Regions from separate parts of the Homo sapiens genome. Here region 1 is linked to region 2. Evidence: fine-mapped expression QTL. Tissue or cell type: whole blood. Region 2 holds a variant in brackets; the other region holds the start of a gene. All regions are shown on one strand. Distances are between the middles of the regions.

Evidence for each region.
Region 1: PID1 starts here. The variant in region 2 is fine-mapped to the expression of PID1 in whole blood (TOPMed, PIP above 0.99).

Annotation. Positions count from the first base shown.
Region 1 is chr2:229,266,530-229,274,866 of GRCh38, reverse strand. It overlaps PID1 (phosphotyrosine interaction domain containing 1), which reads left to right and starts at 3,580. Exons shown (of 3, transcript NM_001100818.2): 1 at 3,580-3,853. The coding sequence starts at 3,824.
Region 2 is chr2:229,341,985-229,350,321 of GRCh38, reverse strand. No RefSeq gene overlaps it. Among named protein-coding and RNA genes, the nearest start is that of PID1, 75 kb to the right of the region's middle. The variant A/G (reference allele first, on the strand shown) is at 3,604.

The DNA of each region.
Region 1 (8,337 bases), 75 kb after region 2:
TATTCCAAATGGAAATAGTGTAACCACAAGAAGCATGGGCCGCTTTGTGAGAATTGGATCATTCCAATAATAAAAAGAGAAAGAAACATAATGGGGATGAAAACGAATGTTTCCCACACACCTACCATGTGTCAGGCATGCTGCACATATTAATTCATTCACTCCTCCCCAAAATCCTAAGTATTAAGTAATATTATCACCCATTTTATAGAAGAGAAATCTGAGGTTCAGCAAGGCAAATGACTTGTGAAAAGCTGATACCTAGGTAGACAGTTCGAAGGCTGGGATTCAACCTGAGTCTTCTGCTTGTCCTAGCTCCTTTCCAACATTTACTGAGATTGATAAATATTTTATACATATATTCAAATTATATACATTTTATCCTACTTTAAAAACCATAATTGTATCATTTTCAGCTGCAACACAACTTTATAATTATCCTTTTAAATGCTGCATAATATTTTAATATTTCTTTGATATGCTGGACCATACTTTCATTCACCATTACTCTGACTTGGACATTGAGGTTGCTTATGCTAGGGCTCAGAACCATGAACTAGATCAAATCTGGCTTAACACAATTTCTAGGGATGCTGTAATTATTTTTCTGAACCAAATGTGTGAATAACGCATCTGTGCCTTGTCAAGCTTTTTTGATTTCTGTCATTTGCCTTCAAATGGTATTTATTGACAAGATTAGACCTGTTTCGGTAATTGCAGGAGACTAAGTACATGAAATTAGGCACACATTTACATGCCTAATATTTCTACTCATTGCACCAAAACACCTTCTGCTCATTTTAAGGGTGGTTTCTTGCTCAGAACAAACCTGTTTACATCGTAAGGCAGCATTTTCAGATTCACCAGGAAGGATGAGGTTCCAATGTCACAGAACAGAGCTGGGAGACATTGGCATGCAGGTCTCATCTCTAGCCAGCAGATGTCTCTATTTCATTCACCCTTCATTGCAGGCTCCTCCTGAATGGGAAGACTTGGGAGCAAAATCTATGAGTGGGAGGTTGTCCCATCCTTTTGTCACCTCCCACAAGCCTGCAATTGCCCCTCCTCCACCCCCTCCCCTAGCTTCCTGATTCGTGGCATAAAGGTAATTGAAACAGGAGTGCCATTTGAGTTTAAATACATTCTTTACTTTACCAAATCTGTTTGCAAAGTGGGAACGGTAACTGAAAGCAATCTTTACAGAGCCAAAGCTTTTTCTCTTTAAATAGCACCATACTCCGTACTAAAAGCTGTATTACTGAGTCATAACAATTAATTACGTTTGGAGGTGAGAAGACAGGATTTAACGCTCTAATGCGATTTGAATTTAGGCCGTTAACTCATTCCACTGCTATTTAAAACAAAATCACTTTTCCACGGAAGCATCTGCAAGCAAGGATGGTTTCAGAGCTTAAGTCTGAAGACATCCCTGGCAACTGAATATTCCTGTTTTAGCTTCCTGGGGGGGTTGGGGGGTGGGGTTTATATGCATGTCTGGATTTTCTAGATTTTTGTAATGAATTGCATTTCTTTCTACTTTGGGATTTGATAAAAGAGAACTGGGGGCTGGGAAGGTCATAAGGAATTTTGTAGGTGTGGAGGTGTGCAGGAGGAGTTACCGGAAAAGCAAACAGAGACCATATCACCAAGCATGTGAGGCACATGTCTGTGCGGGCTGACAGGCAAACACCTCATGAAAAGAGATTTATTAATAAGTTCAGAACAAGTAGCAGGAACTGGAGAAGGAGCTGAGAAGGTTCAGGTGGTTATCAGGCAGGAGTGGGAGGGTCCTGTGGATATCCAGGGAGACAGAGACAAGCTCTTCAGAGGCAGCTCTGTGGCTTTGCCAGAGGCTCCTAGAGGCACTGAGGGTCCTGGGCTTGCCAAGGCTGGTGGCACCAACATAGCAACCGCAGGGTCCAGAAGGATCTGCCTGGAATCCTGGATCTGAATCGCCATTGTAACTCCCCACAGTGTGACTCTGTGAACCCTGTGCTCCCCAAGCCTTGGGAGATAGGGGCTTCTGTCCCACGGAGAGTTGCTGCGAGGGTCCGATGAGCTGAGGGTTAGATTCTGGAGTGGTTCCATATCTGGAAATCATTGTAGTCATGCAGAACAAGGAAAATGGACAGATCCTCCTTCCAGACATGGAGTGTGGATTTTGACATTGCATGAGTAGCTCACGGCCCAAGCTGTGCAGCTGTCTCAGTATGAAATGCCTCTCTTTCACACCCCTCTGCTCTCAGGACCCTGCCTTGTAGGAGCCTAGGGCTCCCCACAAACATTGTGTTCTCTCTGCTCCTCTCTTTGGTCATTCTATGTCCTGAGTTCTTCCCACCATGTTCTCCTCTCCCACTCTTCATCAGCTCGAGAATCAGCTTAGTATCCCTGACTTGCCAAGTGCCTTTAACCCCCAGCCCTAGACGGATGCTCTTTCCACTGGGTTTCCATGGTCAGTTAGAGGCGCAGGGCCACATCTCCTGCCCTGAAGTCATCTGACTGTGCACTCTCTAAGCCACTCACTGGCTGTGTGACCTGGACAAGTGACCTAAACCTTATAAGCCTCATTTGTTTGATCCACATGGTGAAAATATTAATAGTTATTTTGCCGAGTTGTCAAGAGAATGGGAAGGGCTGGCCTGTTTAGGACAGGAAGTCATCTCATGGTGGCCGGCACTAGCCGGGGAGCCTCCAGGCCTGCGAGCCCAGAGCGGCTTTCCCTTGGGTTCTGAGAGCCTCCTGCTGCACCTGGCAGATCTCAGGATGAGTTAGTGATTCGGGAGTCTGCATGGCCCTCCTCACCCCTGTATAGGTTAGGAGTCGAGTCCTCTCCCCATCATGAAGCATGGCCTCTTCGTGGCCAATCCCTCTCATCTCTCAGGTCTTACTCCAGGCATTCCCCAGGGCCCTTGTCTAAGAAGCTCTCCTCTCCCCTTCTTCCCACATCTGCCCTGTTTTATCACCACCCGATATAGCACCGGCTTGTTGATGTGTTTGCTCAGTCACGACTCTCTCTCCAAAGCAGAAGGTAAGCTCCAGAGAGAAGGAACATTCTCTTGTCTTCTATTCTGCGTCGCTGCATCCTCAGAACCCAGCATAGGGGCTGGAGCCTAATAGATGCTCAGTTAACTGGAGTGGGAAGAATGAATGGAAGTGTCTCCCTAGCACAGCGCCAGGCACAGCACAGGCACTTCAGAGATGCCTGTTATATGGAAACCCGGGACCCCCGGGGCTACGGTTTCCTTATTTTAGGAATTTCCCCCACCCCCGCCACCCCCGACATCCCCGCTGCCCCCACCACCCCCGGCTCCAGGCCCTTCCCCCCTCAGCCAGTCTGTCCCTTTTCCCAGACCCCAACCCAATGGGGGCTTCCTGCAGGGAAGGGCCGGCTGTTCTAGCCTCCCCATTCACCCCTCACTAGGATTTAGAGTCGGCCGCGCTGCACTCCCGCCCCGCGCGGCCCCTGGGCGCCCGCCCCGGGCATGCTCAGAGCGCGCAGGTCCGGGCGGCGGCGGCGGGGGAGGAGGGAGCGGCCGCCCCCGCCGCCGCCGCGCGCTCGCCGGGCCCGGGCGGAGCTGCGCAGTCCTCTCGCAGCTGCGCCAGGACAGCCGGCGCGCGGCCGTGCCCACAAGTTGCCGGCAGCTGAGCGCCGCGCCTCCTCCTGCTCGCAGCCCCCTACGCCCACCCGGCGGCGGTGGCCAGCGCCAGGACGCACATCCCGCGGACACCGACCCCAGATGTAAAGCGGGACCCCAGCCCCTCGCCCCCCGGCGCGATCGACAGTCTCGCCAGCGTCTCCTCTGCCAAAACCCAGGGCTGGAAGATGTGGCAGCCGGCCACGGAGCGCCTGCAGGTAAGGGGCACCCGGGAGCCGGGGGCCAGCCTGGAGGAGGAGGTGCCCGGGCAGAGGAACCTAGTTTTTGCTTCTGCCTACTTTAGGGGATTTGCCCAAAACCATCTTGTAAGACGCATCGATGGCAACATGATGCTGTCGGTTTACCCAGCGCCAGGAACCCGGCAGGGGTATGGGGATGATGAAATTGATAAACGCACGGGTTCAGGCGTTACAACTTTTGGCTTGGAGGTGCTTGTGTGCGTGTTGGTTGGTACATATAAGGTTGGACTTTCTGACTGGCAATTTAGATTGCATTCCACTGACACAATGCAGTGGTCTGGGGTTAGGATTTTTGAAGCCAGATTTTTTTTTTTTTTTTTTTTTTTTTGTGGTCACCAGGAAAGACAGAACAAGTGATATGTGAAAGCATCCATTTGCCAATATAATGTGGAAATATCAAGCTTGGTTTGGCTTGGTCATGGTATGCTACTTATTTTATTTTTCCCTATTCATTGGTTCTCTCCCTTTATCTTCCTTAAACCCAAGCTCCTTCAGATATTTAAGAATCAAAAGTAGGTTCAGCCAGGAATATTTATGTCCTGGGTTATCCCATCAAAAGTTTTTTACTGCTGTCTCCTGAAATGCCAGACTGCCTTGAATTGGATTCTGGAAGCTGGGGATTTGCGGGAGGCGATTGAAGAGAAAGAGGGACCTTTCCCAGAAGAACTCCTTCAGTGACACGTTGGGCCTTGGGATTGCCCTGGTTGCAAGGTTTGAGGACTGCCTTTTGCTGGCAAATATTGTCAAGAGTCACGGCAGCTACTCTGCCAGATAAAATCCACTGAATCCTGCAGTTAAACTTTTGGCAAGCTAGGAGCCACATTGTTTCGTAGTAAACTTTGAAGACGTGTTTAACTGGTAAAATACAGCACCATTGGAGGCTGAGTGCATCTGAAGACTTAGGACAATGAGGCCAGGCCCTGGCTAGGTTGGAGGCTTCTCAATGAACATTTACAGCCCCAAGCACAGTTTCTCAGATGCAGGGAGAGGCTAACCTTTGTCTAGGAGTCCTCATACAGAGGAACAACCCGCAGAGGGCATTGCATTTAGCAGAAACAGATGCCCCACAGCTCCTTTCCAAAGCTCCCTGGGCCATGATTTGCGGGGAGTGTGTTCAATTTATCAGAGCCTGAGACACCAGACCAGTTCCCCAGGGTCTCAAGTAGAATAAACAAGAAAACCTGCATTTAGCCTTGCAGATGAGGAGGTGGATGACCAACCTCCTAACCCCCTCCTTGTCTTACTAAGAGAATATCAGCACTGGGCTCTGAATGACTGATAGAAGGTGATGTAAATATATTTTGGCAGTGGCACCAGATACCAGTGGCGCATTTGAAGTTCTCCTTCGGTTAAAGGCGTAACTTCTATTCCAAAGGAGCAGAATGATTGAGGGGAGCTGGCAGGTTTCCTGTTCAAGTGCAGAGGGTAGCTTTTGGAAGTCCTTAGAGAGATGTGACCAAAATTCCTTGAGGTGGCTTTTATGGCCTGATGATCTGTACCTCTGAAGAGTTTGTAGATTTTTGACTATTCAAGTTCTTCCTACCGGCCTGTTTCACTTAGGGAATCCTGTGCGCTCTGGAGCATGTGACCCTTGGCAGGTGGGCGCTCTCGCTTGCCTTCCCATAGAGATTGCTCCTCACTAGAAATGTCTCCCCCTTATTTTGTGAAATGTGCACGTGTGCATTTTGGCGTGAGCCTGGTTTATTGCAGTTGGTGTTTGCAATGCGTTTATTTTATTTCAAGGTGTCATGTTGAAAGAACCTGTTTTTAGGCTTTTGAAAGCTCATATAAACAGGGCTTATCACCAATAAGACCGAGTCACTGTTGGAAGGTCCTTACCAACAGGGGGCTCAACTTCATGCTGCCCAAATTTCGATGAGTCTCTTTTGAAAGTACATACATCTCAAGCCTTGAGATTAGAGAAGTGAGACAAATGCGGAAAAATTTTTTTATATCCGTGGCTTCTTCCCAAAGAGTATTGCTTGACTCTCCTTGAAAACACATAATTTATATGTTTTTACTTTTGCCTCTGAGAGAGCTGTTGAGGATGAGATGGTGAGTGAGCTGCTTATCATATTTTATTTACATTCCTTGTGGTTATCTTTGTCACAATCTCTGTTTGCTGTCTGGGGTTTTTTCCTTTTCTTTTCCTTTCACCGTGATATAGAAACATGCCTGTCCGATTCCTCAGTGAGAAGCCACTTTGCCACTCCCAGGCTCTGTGGCCACAGAGATAGCAGTGGATATCATGCTGGATAGGAAACTTGAGAATGAGTTCTGCTCTTTAATGATGTCTGAGCTCCATGTGCCTTTCACAAATCTTTATAAACCTTCTCATTCGACCTCATTAATTTTTTTCTCATTTATCTTTAATACAAACATTCTAATTTAGATGAGCCAGAGTGAAGAAAATTCGTCAAGGAAACATTCCCAGAACTTCCTAATAGGACTAAGGAGTCAATTTATTTTATCAATACCTAGAATCAAAAGAGGGGATGGAAGAAAATAACCAGACCCTTTCTTGATGATATAGTTCATATTCGATGAAGCTGGTTTGAGAAGTCTGTGTCCCAGGGGAGTGTGATAGATCTTTGCGTAGAACAGTCACCCTCTAAATAATGGACTTTTGAGTGTAGCAACTGGCTCCGTTGCTCAGGAAATGGCATCTTTGATCAGGTTTGATTATCATTATTGTTACCCACACTTCTGTGTCCCCACAAAATGATGCTGATATTTTCTGATTTGAGGTTTAGCTGTTTGACCCAAATCCAGCACAGGCAAAGGGACCTATTGCCCTGAGCAGAGCTGCGCTGGGTAATTTCTCATTCAGTCACACAAACCGAGGCAAGTTCATCTGCTCCCTTGAATGTTAAAACTTCTATTGCATCCCACTCGAGCCCTCGCTGGGAGCTTCTGCCATTAAAAATATAATAGGATCAAAAGGGATGTGAAGATTTAATTTACCACCCCAACTTTTTACAGTGAATAAATATGAATTCTTCTCTTTTCACCTTCCCGTCTGCACAGCAGACTTTTTTTTTTTCTTGGAGGTATTGAGGAGTGTTATACATTTTTAAAGAAGCAGATTTGAAACAGACTCCTTTCAGAAAAGTAAAGGAGACTTTTCTGAACAAATAAAAACCCTACTGGTTTTTATGAAATAGAGATGAGATTACCTCTGGCCTTGAAATTTTAAAATTTGTATGAGTTTCTGGATTGACTTGATGATTGTACTGGGTGGATCCCTCAGAAGTAACAAACCCATCCATGCAAGACTGTGTCCCATCCATAGGAACAAGTATTTTCTCAGAGCAAATGTCTTCACTGAGCTACCAGATGCATTTTCTGGAGGCCTTGATAGGAGGAGAAAGATGAATCAAGACTGACTTAGAAACGAAGGAGGTCAACACATCCTTAAAGGTCTTTGGTGTAGTTATTACTAGGATAGAGTGGAATGTGATAGGCGTATGAGTTCTAGCAGATTCTAATTGTGAAGTTTACATGTAACCATCTTCTCATGAGGCATTCTATAAAGGTTCCAATATAATCATCTAGCTGTCTTCACTGAGATTACCATTTCTCCATGGCAGATTCAGAAAAAACAGCTTTTTATTCACAAAGCTGGATTTGAGTTTTGCAGCCTGGGCAATTTTTTCTGTTCCATCCATTACTTCCTTTTTCATCCTCGTTGTGGCCAATGTCTGTGTACTAGCACTTCCACAAGAGGGAGAAACACAGTGAAGAGTAGGGAGGACCCCAGATCCTGAAAAAGCTTTCTTTTGGTTTCTTCTGAAACTTTTGGTTGATGAAGTGGTTGAAGTTTCCAGCTAAATACTATTTGGGGATTTTAGGAGCCAAAGTCCTCCTCTGAGGATTATCTCACCCTTTCTCTGCCTTGTCCTATCTGGTAGATGTTGTCTTGACTTGGAGTGTGGATCGTTCTAGATTTTTCTTCTCTATGATGATGCCACTTTCACTTTTCCCCTGAGAAGTGAGACTGGAGAACCCTCTAAAACGTCAACTGGAGACCATTAGCCCTGGCCCATCAGGCAGGGTGAAAACCGGCAAATCTGATACTTTTCCAGGCTGACCAAATTGACAAAAGGAGCAAGGATTAAGAATGGGAAGATACTAGTAACCTGCTTTTGTGGTGCAGGCACTGTGTGTGGCACTGTGCCGAGGAGCTTTATTTTAACTATCTGGCTCATTTGCATCCTGTAACCACTTTTATCCGCATTTTAGAGAGAAACTGAAGGCCAGAGAGTCGAAGTGATTTGGCCAGCGTTGAGCAGCTAGAAATGAACTGAGCTGGAGTTTGAACCAGACAGTTTGGTTCCAATCCTTACTTCTTAAGCACTTCACCATAGTGCAGAAGGATAAGACAGGCACAGTGCAATGTACATGTTGGTGCTGTTGTTATTAATAAATACAGTTAGAGCAAT
Region 2 (8,337 bases):
CCAATTCCTCGCCTGAAGCGATCTGCCTGCTGTGGCCTCCCAAAGTGCTGGGATTACAGGTGTAAACCACCATGCCCGGCCTGTCATTTTTAATACTGAGCAATTAAACTATGGTTATAACTTGGCTTTCAGCCCTAGATGAGCCACAGATGTGCTTTTGTTTGTCCTACACCATATGTTTAAATGTGTAAACCAAAATTAATAATTAGGATCTCTCTGTCTCTCTCACACACACACACACACACACATACACACTCCACTCACACAAATCAGTTTTCTGGCTTACCTTGAAAACTCAGAAATGTGATTGCACCATCCATATGGAGACAGGAGAAAGGAAAAAAACAGGCAGACAGTTAAGACAGGTCACTGGTAGAATTGTTTTAAACAGAGAAATAGGCTGAAAAATCAACCTACAGCTACACAGATAAGGGGACAAGCCCCAACATAGAAACACCTTTGTTCATTGTATAATCAGCGGACTCCCAGGAAAGTTTCCTCCCCTTTTGTGGACATGTACCTGGTGGCTCCGTGGGAACTTTCTTGGCGGGGGAGGCTTGCCTGAGACATGTCCACAGCTGTACAGATAAGGGCAGTTACACAGGCCACTACATAGACAAGGACAATTTCTTATAAAAACATTTATATTCAACTGTAAAATGGCAACCCTCTCCACTGCAGAGAGCTTTCCTCTTTTGCTTATTAAACTTTCACTCCAACCTCACCCTTGGTGTCCGTGCTCCTTAATTTTCTTGGTTGTGAGACAAAGAACTCAACACCTCAGACAATAAGATTGCTTCATTGACCCTAGATGGCTTCATTATTACCACATGGCAGCAAGTGGCTGAAATGGAAATGAAACTGCCCCTTTTAGATAGTTGGGCACAAACCCCACCACTCCCTATTGTCTCACTGACACTAAAGGTGAATGTCAGTTACTACTTATAATATTTTTTGCCCAGTTATTTTTGTTTTAGTTTTGCTTTATTTTCATTTTGTGGATAAACATTTCTCTATATCCATGCCATCAAAACAGGTATATGAGCATTAGTTGAGTGGGCTGTGTGTTTCAAGGAAAATGAGCAAAAGCATAGTTATTGTGGAAGTGAAGACTATTTGTATGTGTTTAATACCCCCCAAACCCCTGACCAGTTGACTAAGTCACATTACTTTCCTGTCCCTAGGATCTCAGCACTAGATCAGTAACTTTTAAAGCTGTTTTTTAATAAAAGTATGTTGTCTTCCAGTGAAATACTACATGGATGTGTGGTATATAAAACAGATTAAAATGAACAAGATGTTCTGATCAAACCTGGATAAGAGGTCCTGGTGGCCAGGCCCTTTGGCCTCCTCTTCCCACCACCCCTAACCCCAATGGTCTCTGAGGGGATGTGAGGAGCCATGAGTCCCACAAAGAACAGTTTGAAGACCACTGGTCTAGCTGATCCACCCCAAGACTCTTCATCTTCCCATCCTTCAATCTGTCCATCTGTCCAGCAGATTGATAATGAAGCACTCGGCGTGTGTAAGTCGAGTGCTAGGTGTTAACTGAATTAGCTGTCGTTATTTGTTAGGCTTCTCCACTGTAAAATTACCTTTTCCCTCCTTCTCTCCATACTGTACTCTTTGGAAGGAAGTCACTATGTGTAGCCCATGCTTAAGGAGAGGGGAGTGATGCTGCTCCACTTCCTTAAGGACAAAATATCTACTTAAACTGTTTGGAATTTGGCACGAGAAACTTGTTTATTCTTCCTTAGTTACTTATTTAATCAATAACTTGTTTATACTAGTATGGACTCCTGGACATCTTTGTTATAGTTTGGAGTATAATTTAATACTTCTTTATTTTTTTGCTCAAAATGTTCAGTACAGCATTTGCCCTGTGGATGCTAGATGCTAGAATGAAGACAGATGTTAGGAACATGTCATTGCATCAGGATGTTGCAATGTTACAGGGTGTTGTGGGAAATTCAAGCAGAGAAAAATCTAATAGATTCCATAGAAATCAAGGAAGGTTTCATGACGTGTCATCTTAGTCAGGACCTGAAGGATGGGTAGGAATTACCCATGTGAAGGGAGGGGAGGGTGTGTGAAGCTGCAGAGGGTGAGAGCGGACACTTCTGAGGGACTAAAAACAATGGAGTCAGGCTGGAGCTTCATTGTGCAAGGTTAGGGTGAGCATGCACAACGCTAGGACCCAGCAATTTTACTCCTCGGTAAATGCCCAAGAGTGACAAAAGCATGTGTTTGTTTAAAAGAGTTTTGTACAAGAATATTTATGGCAACCTTATTTATAATTGTCCCCAATACAATAGAATACCATTAAAAAATAAAAAGGAAAGAAGTACTGAAATATGCAGTGACACGTCTAAATCTCACAGGCGTTAATGTTGAGGAAAAAAAACAAAACAACACAACAACAAAAAAAAAACCAGACACAGCAGAGGGCCTAAGGCATGATTCTATTTATGTGCAATTCCAAATCTAGGAAAACCAATTTATGGTGATAGAAATCCAAACAGTCTTTGCCTCTGGAGGGTGGGGGTATTAACTGGGAAAGGGGCACAAAGGACATTTCTTGGGCATGAAAATGGTCTGTGTCTGGATTTGAGTGATTGTAGCAAGAGAAAAGCATCTGTCCAATGACATCCAATTATAGACTTAAGATCCATGCCTTTTACTGTATATAAACTTTTAAATAATGGAGCTTAAAAAACAAGACCACCAAAGAAAAGTACAAGAGAGAGGGTGGGTAAATGGAGAATTGGGAGTCGGGCAGGAGCTGAAAAACTTTTGGGTAGGGTTGGGGTTGTTTCCATGCCAGGGAGAAAGCAAAGGTCATGTGTTGGTCAGGGAGGAAGACCCTGCTGCAGGGATTCAGGCAGAAATAAATTATAGTGTCTTATAAACCTCAGCTTCTGGACTGAATCAGCAGCTCCATGATTTTGTAATGTAGGTTTTTCTTGGATGAATTTCCACGCTAGTCATTTATAATTTTCTAATCTGCAGATTAAAATTTAACCCACAGACACATTCCCAGGCTACTGTGTGGCAGAAGAGACCCATAGACAACCAATTGTTGTCATTTTTCTGCTGGTTTATTTGAAAATCTCCAAATTACTAATGAGAATGTTCACAACATTGAAATCCTTTTATTATTAAATGAGTCTATGCAGAAAATACTTTATGGTTAAATTATCTTTTAATAAGGCAATTTCCTGCTTTCCCAACCCAAAAGGCCCCTTAACAATTTGAAATTCAGATATTGTGGTTGCCTTATGTCAGAGCCAAGCAACTCTTGCATCCTTTCAGAAAAGTGACTCCCATGGGGAATTTCAATTTAACTCATTATAGCATGATTTTTCTTACAGTGACGTGTCTGTAAATCCCTTGTCATAAAGAGTATAATAAACATACAATGTGGTCCTGAGATCAAGCTTTTAGGAGGATCTATTTCAAAACACACACGTACGTTACACAGAGTGTGTGTGTGCATGTGAAAGAGAGAGACAGACAGACATTCTATGGTAGAGCAGAGTTTTAAAACCAATGAACTAGACCAGGGTTTCTCAAGCTCTGCACCATTAATATCTTGAACTGGAA[A/G]ATGGTTTCCTGTTGAGGGCTGTTCTGTGCATTATAGGATGTTTAGTAGCATCTCTGGCCACTACCCACTAGATGCCAGGAGCACCTCCCAGTTGTGACAACCAAAAATGTCTCCAGATATTTCCAAATATCCTCTGGGGGGTCAAAATTACCCCTGAATGAAACTATTGAGCTAGACAATCTGTTTTTCCTTCTATGCTTTTTATTTCTTCCATCTGTCCATTCATTCATTCATTTGTTCATTCATTCATTGTCTCACTCATGCAATTCATTCCATCCATTCATATGACAAATCTTCCCTGAGCACTCACTGTGTAAGGCGCAGGTAGTGTTCTCAAATGCTTCCTCATGACCCACCAGTGTCTAATGACTGGTCTAGGGGTGTGGAGTCAGCAGTGTGCTTCTAGATCTAAAATACTGAATTCTGTAGATGTCTTGCCTTTTCATGATTTAGAGTGATTCAAGAACTCTAATTTTTTTTTTTTTTTTGAGATGGAGTCTCACTCATTCTGTCACCCAGGCTGGAGTGCAGTGGCACAATCTTGGCTCACTGCAACCTCCGCCTCCCAGGTTCAAGCAATTCTCCTGCTTCAGCCTCCAAAGTAGCTGGGATTACAGGCGTGTGCCACCACGCCCAACAAATTTTTGTATTTTTAGTAGAGATAGGGTTTCTCCTTGTTGGCCAGGTTGGTCCTGAATTCCTGGCCTCATGTGATCCATCCACCTCGACCTCCCAAAGTGCTGAGATTATAGGCATGTGCCACTGTGCCCGGCCAAGAATTCCTTCGTAATAAGATAACCTGTGCTCACTATTCCAATAAAAGTAGTTGACATTTATTAAAGGTAACAAAATACTGGCCACAGTGTTGACCAATTTGTCTAAATTGTCTCCTTTAATCCTCACAACAAACTTCTGAGGTAGGAACTTTTATCACTGCCATTTTTAAGGTGGGCAAATTCAGTCCTAGAGTGTTTAAATAGCTTTCCAGATTTCCATTGTTTGAAAGACACAGGCCAGAGCTCATGTTCCCAATCTCCCAGTCATCATCTGTCCATCCACCCCCACCCATCCATTTAGACCTTCATTAATTTATCCATTCAGCAAATGTTTATTAAATGCCTACTATGTAACAGTAAGTTGTTCCCTCACAGCTTTTCAAGATTGCTATGTGAGGGAAGGAAAGGAGTGCCACGGCAGCAGGACCAGGAATTGCCCATGGCCCTGGATAGCAGGAGCTACACCAAGGGTCCTTTTTCTGCTTAACAACAGTGGTGAGGCAGGAGAATAGGGAAAATGAGGCAGGAGAATAGCAAAGGGAATTAAAAGTTGGATAAAGGGCAGAATAAGTAAAAACAGAGAGCAGAAGCAAGATGAAGGGGTGGGTGAGCAAGAAGCAAGATAAGAGGTGGATGTTAAGCAGCCAAAACAAAGAGTAAGATAGAGAAGTGAGCAAGGACCTCATGGCCAGCAGGATCTGGACCAAACCAGGAAGGGGCAGCGCTTCAGAGACAGGCATGCACATTAGAGAGAAAAAGTATCCTTCACATAACCCTGTATGATAATTGGCTACTTAAGATTCATGCATATGGGCTGCGTATCATGCATGTACTTAAAATTATGGGATAGAGGCAGCTTGCAAGTGCATGGAGGCCGAAGTAACTAAACAACACACCTCTCAATCAAAAGGCAGACACTGGCTAGAGATTAGGCAGCCTTGGGAAGAGAAGAAAAAAACACGTAAAAAGACTCAAACTTCACCAAACTGACGCTGATCTCATCTCACAGAGGCCAGTCCATTCTCCTGCCCTGAAAGTGTAATACTGTGCTTAATGAACTTCTGTTGCTTTGCTTTGCTATCTGTTTGTCTCGTCCAATTCTTTATTCGGGACACCAAGAGCCTAGAACTGCGTGGCACCCTCCGTTAACAGTGGGTGCACAGAGAAGCTCCTTCTGAGTCTTAGGTCAGAAGATGAAGAATGAGAATTAGCTCTGAGCTTTGTGTGCAGGGTGTGTGGGAAGAAGGCACTTTCAGAAAGATAGCCAAGCTTTTCATACCAACTCAGGCTTCCTGTGGTTGAAGGGTGGAGGCAGTTTGAAAATTACTCTTTTCACTTTACAGATGGGATGATTGGAGCCCAGGAAGAATGAGAGATGACTCTCCCCGGGTTAGTGGGACATCAGTGCTATGAAGAAACAGAAGATGGGATCACATAGCTGGAAGCACTTGCAGCACGTTTCCTGGCCCATTGTTCACACTCAACACATAAGAACTCATTCTTATTCCTAAAGAGCCCTGGTCTCCATTGGCCATGCAGTGGTCAGCCATGTGCTCAGAAGACAGAGCTGGAATGTAGACAGAAAAAAATGGGCCTCGGAAGAGATGAGTAACTCTGCTTGTTTACCACTTCAACATGTTAGCACAACTCAAGTTACAGAGACTCGTGAGTGCTTCAGCTCTGAATTCAGGGGATTAAGGGAAGAAAGCTTTCGGCGCAGGATAATATTCACTCGGAAAGGCTTCTGTTCCTCTGTCAGGTAGCAAGGGACATGACTCATGCATTTTGTCTTTTATAGGAGTCTTACGGTGTGCTATAAATGGATTTACTTTAATTCTCAAATAGTCTCAGAGGCTAGTGATGATAAATAATTACGTAGTTGAATGTGAACTGTGATCCAAACAGCTTTAAATGTAGAATTAACTCTACATTTAGTGGGTAAACCTGAGGCACTAGGGGGTTAAGCTGATGGTTGATGTACAAGTGGGTCGTTTGCTTTTCAAGGCCTTATTTTCAGGGTTCAGCAGAGTGAAACTTTCTTGAAAGGCTGCGACTGGTTGGATCGCCTCCATCAGGATGGGTATGGCCATGCCATTCCTCAGGTATTTCCCTTGAAGGCAATCACCATTTCACAATGACAGGACCAATTTCCAGCTGTTTTCTTCCAAGGCAGACTCATCCCCAGAAGCATTGCTCCCAAGGCATAACTAGCTTTTCTTCCAGCCCCTTCTGTTTTGTTTAGATGCTTGCTCTACTAGATTGTATGGCCTTTCTGGGTGGAAACTCCACCTTCATTCTTGCCCCACTCACCAGAGGCATCCATGATTTGTTGAGTGATTGACTTCCACACTGTTTCCTATCCTTCTCCCCACCCAATCACATCTGAGTGATTAAGAAGCATCAGTGAACTCTTTCCAGTCCCAACACACTCCCTTACCCAATTCCTTTATTTCCATTATTCCGAATGAATGTGTCTGTATCATATCAGAATTTCCCAAGCTTGCCCGATTGTGGGAATCACTGCCATGCTGTGAAAGTGACAGGTTCCAAGACTTTGCTTACTGGAGACTCTGATTCAACCAACAACTGTTCTGTGCTTGCTTTGGGCTAAGTTTTGAGCCATGTCCTAACAGTTCAGGGTGAATAGATTGATTCAGGTGGATTGTCTTTAAGGAACTGAAGTTGAGGAGGGAGTTCATTGGAGGCTTTGGGTATCTGATGGTAGGAAGTGGGAAGACGGTGTAGAAGGCAAAAGAGCCAGACACCACTTGCCATGTGCCCAGGGCTGAGCTGGATCCATGAACAGGACATTCAGGCCAGCTCAGAGTAGGAAGGCTCTGATCTTGAGGGAGAAGGTAATAAAACAAATAATTGCTGATTAATTCTGTTCCCACCCTGACTATTGTCCATAAAGCCTATCCATCAATTTGCCTGCTGTCAAACCATTGGCACAACAATTTAAGAATCTGAATCCAAGAATCCAACAATTGGGGCTGTGTACTCGCAGGGACTTGGGCCCTTGCTGCATTTCCAAGAGTTCTCTCCCTCTTGCAGTGAGCTCACAAGTGCGCAAGTCTAGGCTCAAAATAGAGCAGTTTTGCAAAACAAAATAGAGAAGTTTTACAGCACAGTTGCACATTTAAATCTAGTTGTGACTGAAAATAACCCAAATCTAGCTCCTAGAGGATGCCAGAACTTATCTATTAATTGTACATTTATTTGTATTAAGAATAGATCTTTCTGTGCAAAATGCTCTCAGACTGAAATAACTAATTTCAGATTCCTCTGGGAAATCAGGGGAAACAAGGCTGCTTACCTGGGTTTGCCTCTTTCAGACTTTCGGGGCGCCCTCCAGTGGCTGGGAGCTGGCTGACCGAGGAGGACCTGAGGATTTGGTGTGGGATCTGCCAGTCAGGTTTGCCTCCAGATTCTGCTTCCCTTGGCTTCTCTTGAGCTTTGCACTGGACATGGGTTCGTTTCTAAGCTATTCATTAACTAAAAAGGGCTGGGAGCCATTGCTCTCTCATCTTGCCTTTGCTGCACAGAGAGAAGCAACTTTTTGGCTCTTGCTTCCACAAGAAAGTCTTCTCCTTCCTAAATAGCAGGGATGCAGTGATGAGGATGGACATGTGCTGTGCTCACTCAGATGGATTTCCCAGCTCCCAACTGCATCCTCAGAGAACTGCCCAGCACAGAGGTGACCCCTGGGGCATCATTTTGCTCTTCTTGGGCAGCAAGCTCTAACTTGTATAAATCATCATATTCTTCAGGGATTTGCCCTTCTGCCTTCAGGTTTATATTATTAAACTATGCTCCTATTTTTACAAAAGGCCTCCTTCTCCAAAGTCAAGACATACAGACCATTTATCACCATGCACAGATCTTGAAATTCCTTTGAAGACCTTGGTAAGGGCTCCAATCCCATACTTATCCCTTGTGTCCTTCCAGTGGCATTCT